Linked DNA regions of Homo sapiens. The protein of the gene in region 1 interacts with the protein of each later gene in a pairwise test. Each region holds a gene or a part of one and is shown on either strand. Other genes may lie near its edges.

What was found.
Region 2: the proteins of DNASE2 (region 1) and XRN1 interact in a two-hybrid assay, tested with the Homo sapiens proteins (one large-scale study listed by BioGRID).

The regions. Positions count from the first base shown.
Region 1 is NC_000019.10:12,878,529-12,882,888, reverse strand, and holds the start of DNASE2 (deoxyribonuclease-2-alpha precursor), read left to right. Parts: upstream 1-1,439; 5' UTR 1,440-1,513; coding exon 1,514-1,599; intron 1,600-1,736; coding exon 1,737-1,917; intron 1,918-2,008; coding exon 2,009-2,087; intron 2,088-4,054; coding exon 4,055-4,219; intron 4,220-4,309; coding exon 4,310-4,360.
Region 2 is NC_000003.12:142,437,814-142,441,619, reverse strand, and holds part of XRN1 (5'-3' exoribonuclease 1), read left to right. Parts: intron 1-3,806. UniProt on the Homo sapiens protein: Major 5'-3' exoribonuclease involved in mRNA decay. Required for the 5'-3'-processing of the G4 tetraplex-containing DNA and RNA substrates. The kinetic of hydrolysis is faster for G4 RNA tetraplex than for G4 DNA tetraplex and monomeric RNA tetraplex.

The DNA.
Region 1 (4,360 bases):
AGATTAAAGGCAAGATGGAGTTGGTTAGGTCAGAGCTCTTTCACTGACATAATTTTCTGTCATAATTTTTGCAAAGGCAGTTTCAAGCCAGTACTCAGATTCCCATAGCCCTTTGCCCTGCCATGATCCTTTGAGGCTGAGGTGGGAGAATCACTTGAACCCCGGAGTTCCAGAGCAGCCTGGGCAACATAGTGAGACCCTCATCTCTGCAATGAACAATTATCTGGGTGTGGTGGCACAGGCCTGTAGTACCAGCTACCTGGGAAGATCTCTTGAGCCCAGTAGGTTGAGGCTGCAGTGAACTGTGATGGAGTCACTGCATTCTAGCCTGGGTGAGAAACCATTATCCTGTCTCAAAACGACAAAAAACAAACATACAGTCACCTCTTTGCTAGCTCAGGGGATCCTGGAGAAAACGTGCAGAATGAAAAAGGAGAGTCTGGGTGGCGTGGATTACATGCCTGTAATCCCAGCACTTTGGGAGGCAAGACAGGTGGATCCCTTGAGCTCAGGAGTTCAGCCTGAGCCACATGGTGAAACCGTGTTTCAAAAAAAAAACTACAAAAATTAGCTGGGCATAGTGGCATGTGCCCGTGATCCCAGCTACTCGGGAGGCTGAGGTGAGAGGATCACTTGAGCTGGGGAGGCAGAGGTTGCAGTGAGCCAAGATTGCGCCACTGCACTCCGGCCTGGGCAACAGAGCGAGATATTGTCCGGGAAAAAAAAAAAAAAAAAAGGAAGGAAAAAAAAAAAGAAAGAAAAAGGGGAAGATACACTGGAACACAAATGCTTCTTAAGGGGCGCAGTGGCTCACTTCTGCAATCTTGGCACTTTCGGGGGCCGAGGCTGGTGGATCACGAGGTCAGGAGTTCGAGACCAGCCTAGTCAACATGGAAAAACCCCGTCTCTACTAAAACTACAAAAATTAGCCGGGCGTGGTGTCGGGCGCCTGTAATCCCAGCTACTCGGGAGGCTGAGGCAGGATAATCGCTTTAATCAGGAAGGCGGAGGTTGCAGTGAACCGAGATCGTGCCATTGCACTCCAGCCTGGGCGACAAGAGTGAAACTCCGTCTCAAAAAAAAAAAAAAAAAAAAAAAAAAAAAAAGAGGAAGAACAAAGGTCCCAAGAGTTGGACCCAGGTTGTAGGGCTGGAATAAAAAATAAAATACAAACTTGTGCCTGATCCAGAAACCCGGGCGGGAGTTGGGTCAGACAGAAGAGCGTGGGCTGGGATTAGCTACCACGAAAAGGAACGGTGGCCAGGCTCCAGGAGACGCTGGAGCGCCGGGCCCGTCGTGGGCGTGGTCTGGGCAGACTCAGCGTTGCCTTTTGCCTCTCCAAAACGCAGCATCGCGTCTCGGGGGAGGAGTCTGTACCCTCGTGATGTCCCCGCCCCGGTTCCCAGGCAAGTTTAGGGAAGTGAAAGGCGCCAGGTGCCAGTCCTGGCCTCTGATGTAACCCAGCGCCCCGCAGTCCCGACACAGATTCCTGGATCTCAGCCCCATAGCAGCTATGATCCCGCTGCTGCTGGCAGCGCTGCTGTGCGTCCCCGCCGGGGCCCTGACCTGCTACGGGGACTCCGGGCAGCCTGTAGACTGGTGAGTGCGCAGCGGGGGGCCTACCATCGCCCCGGGGTCCGGCTGCGGTCACTCAACCGGGATGGCTACCTCCTCGGGGAACCCTGGGGTGCCTTCTCTTCCCTCTCTCCTATTTCTGTGCATTCTCCGACCTCCAGGTTCGTGGTCTACAAGCTGCCAGCTCTTAGAGGGTCCGGGGAGGCGGCGCAGAGAGGGCTGCAGTACAAGTATCTGGACGAGAGCTCCGGAGGCTGGCGGGACGGCAGGGCACTCATCAACAGCCCGGAGGGGGCCGTGGGCCGAAGCCTGCAGCCGCTGTACCGGAGCAACACCAGCCAGGTGAAGGGGGCCCCGGGCCAACTAGGGGCGAAACTCTAGGGCTGCCCTGCCTGGGAGGAATTTCACGTTGCCTCCGTTTATCCGCCCGCAGCTCGCCTTCCTGCTCTACAATGACCAACCGCCTCAACCCAGCAAGGCTCAGGACTCTTCCATGCGTGGGCACACGAAGGGTGAGGCCTGGATTGGGGGCTGGGGAGAGACTCGGGTCCCATTTTTCCAAGGTAACCCCTGACGTGCATGGGGTGGTCGGGGAGATCTGCACTGTCAGACCCTGGGCATCTATTCCCCCCAACTTTTTTTTTTCTTTGTTTTTGAGACGGTGGGAGTTCGCTCTGTCACCCAAGCTGGAGTGCAGTGGCACAATCTTGGCTCACTGCAATCTCTGCCTCTGGGGTTGAAGCAATTCTCCTGTCTCAGCCTCCCAAGTAGCTGGTATTAAAGGCGCACCATCACACCAGGCTAATTTTCATATTTTTAGTACAGACGAGGTTTCACCATGTTGGCCAGGCTGGTCTCGAACTCCTGGTTTCTACCTCAAGTGATCTACCCGCCTTGGCCTCCCAAAGTGCTGGGATTACAGGAATGAGCCACCCTGCCCAGCCGAGTTCCTATGCATTTTTCCAAGCTAACCCCTGACCTCCATAGTGGGGTGGGAGATCTCCCCTGTCAGACCTTGGGCATCTATTTCCCCTATTTTATTTTCTTTTAGACAAGGTCTCACCCAGTCACCTAGGCTGGAGTGCAGTATCACAGCTCACTGCAGCCTTGACCTCCCAGGGCTCAGGTGATCCTCCTACCTCAGCCTCCCAAGTACTGGGCCTGCCGGTACCCCCCACCACGCCTGGCTTTTTTTTTTTTTTTTTTTTTTTGCGGCACTCTCTCTCCATCACCCAGGCTGGAGTTCGGTGGTGCAATCTCAGCTCACTGCAATCTCCATCTCCCCAGTTCAAGCGATTCTTCTGCCTCAGCCTCTGGAGTAGCTGGGATTACAGGTGTGCGCCACCATGCCCAGCTAAATGTTGTATGTTTTAGTAGAGATGGGGTTTTACCAGGTTGGACAGGCTGATATTGAACTCCTGACCTCAGGTGATCCACCTGCCTTGGCCTCCCAAAGTGCTGGGATTACAGGCGTGAGCCACCACACCTGGCCTACTTTTTGTATTTTTGTAGAGTGGGCTTTTGCCATGTTGCCTAGGCTGGTCTCTAAGTCCTGGTTCAAGCAATCCACCCACCTTGGCCTCTTAATGTGCTGCGATTACCGGCATGAGCCGCCACACCTGGCCTGTTTCCCTACCTTACATTACTCTTGGCGTTATTCTGGACTATAAGAATTTATGCCTGCAAAAACTGAGCTCAGCTGTGGTTCTAACACTGCTGGCACCCTCTCTAAGCCCCGCTGCAAACTGAGGGTGTTCCTGATTGCAGATGAGCTTGCTGGGAGGCCTGGAGCAATACCCTCTAATTGCCTTTTTTTTTTTTTTTTTTTTGAGAAGGAGTTTTGCTCTTGCTACCCAGGCTGGAGTGCAATGGTGCAATCTCGGCTCACTGCAACCTCCGCCTCCTGGGTTCAAGTGATTCTCCTGCATCAGCCTCCCGAGTAGCTGGGATTACAGGCATGCACCACCATGCCCGGCTAATGTTGTATTTTTAGTAGTGATGAGGTTTCTCCATGTTGGCCAGGCTGGTCTTGAACTCCCGACCTCAGGTGATCCGCCCTCCTCGGCTTCCCAAAGTGCTGGGATTACACTGCGTGGGGCCTGCCTTCTTTTTTTAAATTTTTATTTATTTATTTATTTATTTATTTATTTACTTACTTACTTACTTATGTTTGAGATGAAATTTTGCTCTGTGGCCCAGGCTGGAGTGCAGTGGTGGATCTCAGCTCACTGCAACCTCCACCTCCTGGGTTCAAGCGATTCTCCTGCCTCAGCCTCCTGAGTAGCTGGGATTACAGGCGTCCACCACCACGCTCAGCTAATTTTTGTATTTTTAGTAGAGATGGGGTTTCGCCATGTTGGCCAGGCTGATTTCTAACTCCTGACCTCAGGTGATCTGTGTGTCTCGGTCTCCCAAAGTGCTGGGATTACAGGCGTGAGCCACTGCGCCCGACCTCCCCTAATGCCTTCTTTTGGTCCAGGTGTCCTGCTCCTTGACCACGATGGGGGCTTCTGGCTGGTCCACAGTGTACCTAACTTCCCTCCACCGGCCTCCTCTGCTGCATACAGCTGGCCTCATAGCGCCTGTACCTACGGGCAGACCCTGCTCTGTGTGTCTTTTCCCTTCGCTCAGTTCTCGAAGATGGGTAAGTCGAGTCAGGGACACAGGATGAGTCCTGGGTTTACTGACCAGAACCTGGAACGATCTTGCATTTCCTCCTCCCCTTGTCCTCCAGGCAAGCAGCTGACCTACACCTACCCCTGGGTCTATAACTACCAGCTGGAAG
Region 2 (3,806 bases), on another chromosome or scaffold:
ATCTCTTCCCTGTATTATTTTAACTGCTTCAGATACTAAGACTGCAACTGCAGCCACTACCTATAAACAATGAAGCCAACCCTTTGCCACTACATCAGTTTTCTTACTCAGGTATGCCACGGTTGCAAGCTCGTCCCTCGGACCTGTGTAAGGACTCCTAGAGCTATTCCTGTTTTTTTGTGATATATAAAGAAAAGTCTTGCCCTATTGGCAAGCTTAACACTGGGGCTTGGGTTAGGGCCTTCTTTAGGGCCTGGAAAGCCACTTCTGCTTCAGGTGTCCATCTTACTAAATGGGTATTGGCTTTCTGAGTTTCCTTAATTAGTGTATATAATGGTCTGGCTATTTTGCCGTACCTGGGAATCCATATTCGGCAGAAACCTGTTATGCCAAGGAACCCTCTTAGTTGCTTTAGGGTTTGGGGATGAGGATAAGCAGTATAGGCTGGATACATTCCCCACTGAGGGCCCTGGTGCCTTTGGATAATTTTAGCCCTAAGTATTTAAACTGCTGTGAGCAGAGCTGAGCCTTTGGTTTGGAAACCTTGTAGCCACAGGTGGCGAGGAAATTTAAGAGCGCTTGGGTGGCTTGGTGGCACAAGGTTTCTGAATGGGCGGCCAAAAGTAAATCATCCGCGTACCGAAGGACAAGAGTGTCCAGGTATGAAAATTGGCTCAAGTCTTGGGCTAATTCCTAGCCAAATAGTTGGGGCTATCCCTGAACCCTTGGGGTAAAACAGTCCAGGTGAGTTAAGACGTTGGGTTCGAAGGCTCTTCAAAGGCAAACAAGAATTGAGAGTCAGGATGTACAGGGTTGCAGAAAAAGGCATCCTTAAGGTCCAGGACTGTAAACCGCTCTGCTTCCTCTGGTATTTGGGAAAGCAGAGTATAAGGGTTAGGTACAGCTGGGTATAGAGGAACAACAGCCTCATTCATAATCCTGAGATCTTGCACTAACCTCCACTGTCTGTTGGGTTTCTGTACTCCTAAATTTGGAGTATTGCAGGAGCTATTGCATGGTTTTACTAGGCCTTGGGCTTTTAGGTCCTTAACAATCTTTTGGAGTCCTTGTTGGGCCTCGGGTCTAAGGGGGTACTGCCTTTGGTAGGGAAAGGAGGTGGAATCCTTTAGTTTAACTTGACCAGGATGGGCATTCTTTGCTCGTCCATGTTGTCTTTCTGTTGCCCAGACTTCAGGATTAATTCCTTCCTCAAGCAGGGGACAACAAACGGGTGTTCCTTCTCCTATGTTCAGGTGTATAATGACCCCTACTTTTGCTAGAATGTCTCTCCTTAACAAGGGAGTGGGGCTTTCAGGCGTAATTAGAAAAGCATGTGAAAAGAGTAAAGTTCCCCAGTCACAACTTAGTGGCTGGGAGAAGTATCTAGTGACTGGCTGTCCTAGGACCCCTCGGATAGTGACAGATCTGGAGGACAGTTGTCCAGGACAGGAGAGTAAGACTGAGAAGGCCGTGCCAGTGTCCAGGAGACAGTTAACCTCCTGGCCCTCAGTGGTAAAGCATACCCAGGGCTCTGTGAGGGTGATGGCATGGGCTGGCGCTTTCCCCGGGCACCCTCAGTCCTGCTGCTGGATCATCTGGTTCAGCAGGACCTTCGTCTCCTGAGACCTTCGTCTCAGAGGACCTTCGTCTCCTGAGGTAGTGGGCCTTCCAGTGATTCCCTTGACATAAGGGGCATGGACAAGGGGGCGGCTTATTTCTACTTGGACAATCTTTTTTAAAGTGTCCTTGCGGACCGCACTGGAAGCAAGCCCTTTTAGGCATTCGATTTGCCCAGCTTTTCCCTTTTCCAGAGCCTCCAAAGTCCACTTGCCTAAGGGCCATGACTAAAGCGGTGGCCTTTTTTTTTTTAATCCCGTTTGTCCTGTTCCGCCTGCTCCTCCTGATCTCTATTATAAAAAAACAAGGTTGCCAAGTTCAGTAGAGTTTCTAAGTTTTGCTCTGGGCCTAAGGCGGACTTTTGAAGTTTTTTCCTAATGTCTGCAGCTGACTGATAAACTTGTCCTTTAAGATTAGTTGGCCTTCAATGGAGTCAGGTGACAGGGAGGTATGCTTCCTTAATTCCTCTCTTAGTCTATCCAGAAAGGCAGTAGGATTTTCTTCCTTTCCCTGTGTTACAGTGGACATCATTGAATAATTCATAGGCTTCTTCCTAGTTTTCCTTAGTCCTTCTAGCACGCAAGTTAGCAGATGTCTGCGGCACCAATCTCCATGTTCTGATTCTGTGTCCCAGTGAGAGTCTACACTGGGAACTGCCTGCTGGCCTGTGGGGAATCGTTCTCTTTCCTCTGTTGTCATCCTATCATTGACCTAACTGAGATACCAGAGATTGCCAAACTCTCGGGCTGCAGTTATGGCGGCACTTCTCTCATTTGGGGTTAGTGTCTGATCTAGCAGTAACATTATATCTCTCCATGTCAGATCAAAGGATTGTCCTAACCCTTGTAAAACGTCAATATAGCCATCAGGGTTATCTGAGAATTTACCTAGATCTATTTTAATTTGCTTTAAGTCTGAGACAGAAAAAGGTACATGCACTCTGGCTGGGCCGAATTCTCCTCCTCCCACTGCTTGGAGGGGGCATAATCGGGGAATATTGGCACTCTGGTTCATTGTTTACCCCTTTGTCTGTCTCCTTTGGACCGTTTGGGTTAAAGGGGGGTCCTTGTTAGTTGGGGAAGGAGTCGGGGGGACACTGGAATAGGGAGGTAGACTCTGAGGGCTTCCTGTAGGGCATAAACCACACTTTTTACATAATTGCGAGTTGTCTCTTAATGAAAAGAAAGTTTGCACATATGGCACTTCACTCCATTTGCCCTCCTTTCTACAGAAGAGGTCTAGCTGTAGGATGGTGTTATAATCTATACTTCCCTCACGAGGCCAGGTTTCTCCCCCTTGAAGAGGATATCGTGGCCAGGCGGTACTGCAGAAGAGTATAAGTCATTTCTTTCTTAGTGTCTGAGGGTCAGATTGGTCCCATTCTCCAGAATACATCTTAGGGGCGTTTTTGCCTTGTGGGGGAGAACGTTTCCCATCTGAAAAAAGAACAGAGGGATGCCAGCACCCCTAGTCATTTTCCAATGAGCATTAGTCCTAGAGCGTCCTGTAAGGGCCTAATGCTTATTCTTTTCCAGGGTGCGTAACCACCCATGGACCTCTGCTTATCGGATTAGTTACGCTTACCGATGTAGCAGTCCTGCACCTGTTTTCCCGCCTCTCTTGACCACAAAGAAAAGGGTCTGGACTGCTGGATTCTAGTGGTCCTTTACCAGCGTGCCCAAAATTGCCTTTGTGCTCAGGGGTGAGTTCCTTTCCAGGGTGCGTAACTCCCCACGGACCTCTGCCTATCGGATTAGTTACGCTCCCCAATGTAGCAGTCCTGCACCTGTTTTCCCGCCTTTCTTGACCACAAAGAAAGGGGTCTGGGCTGCTGGATTCTAGTTATTTTTAGTTTTTTGAAGAACCTTCAAACTGTTCTTCATAGTGGTTGTACTAATTTACATTCCTGCCAACAGTGTATGAGGGTTCCCTTTTCTCTACATCCTTGCTAGCATTTGTTGTAGCCTGTCTTTTGGATAAAGGCCATTTTAACTGGGGTAAGATGATATCTCATTGTAGTTTTGATTTGCGTTTCTCTGATGATCAGTGATGTTGAGCACCTTGTCATGTTCCTATTTGCCATTTGTGTGTCCTTTTTTGAGAAATGTCTGTTCAGATCTTTTGCCCATTTTTGATTGGATTATTAGATTTCATCCTATAGAGTTGTTTGAGCTCGTTGTATATTCTGA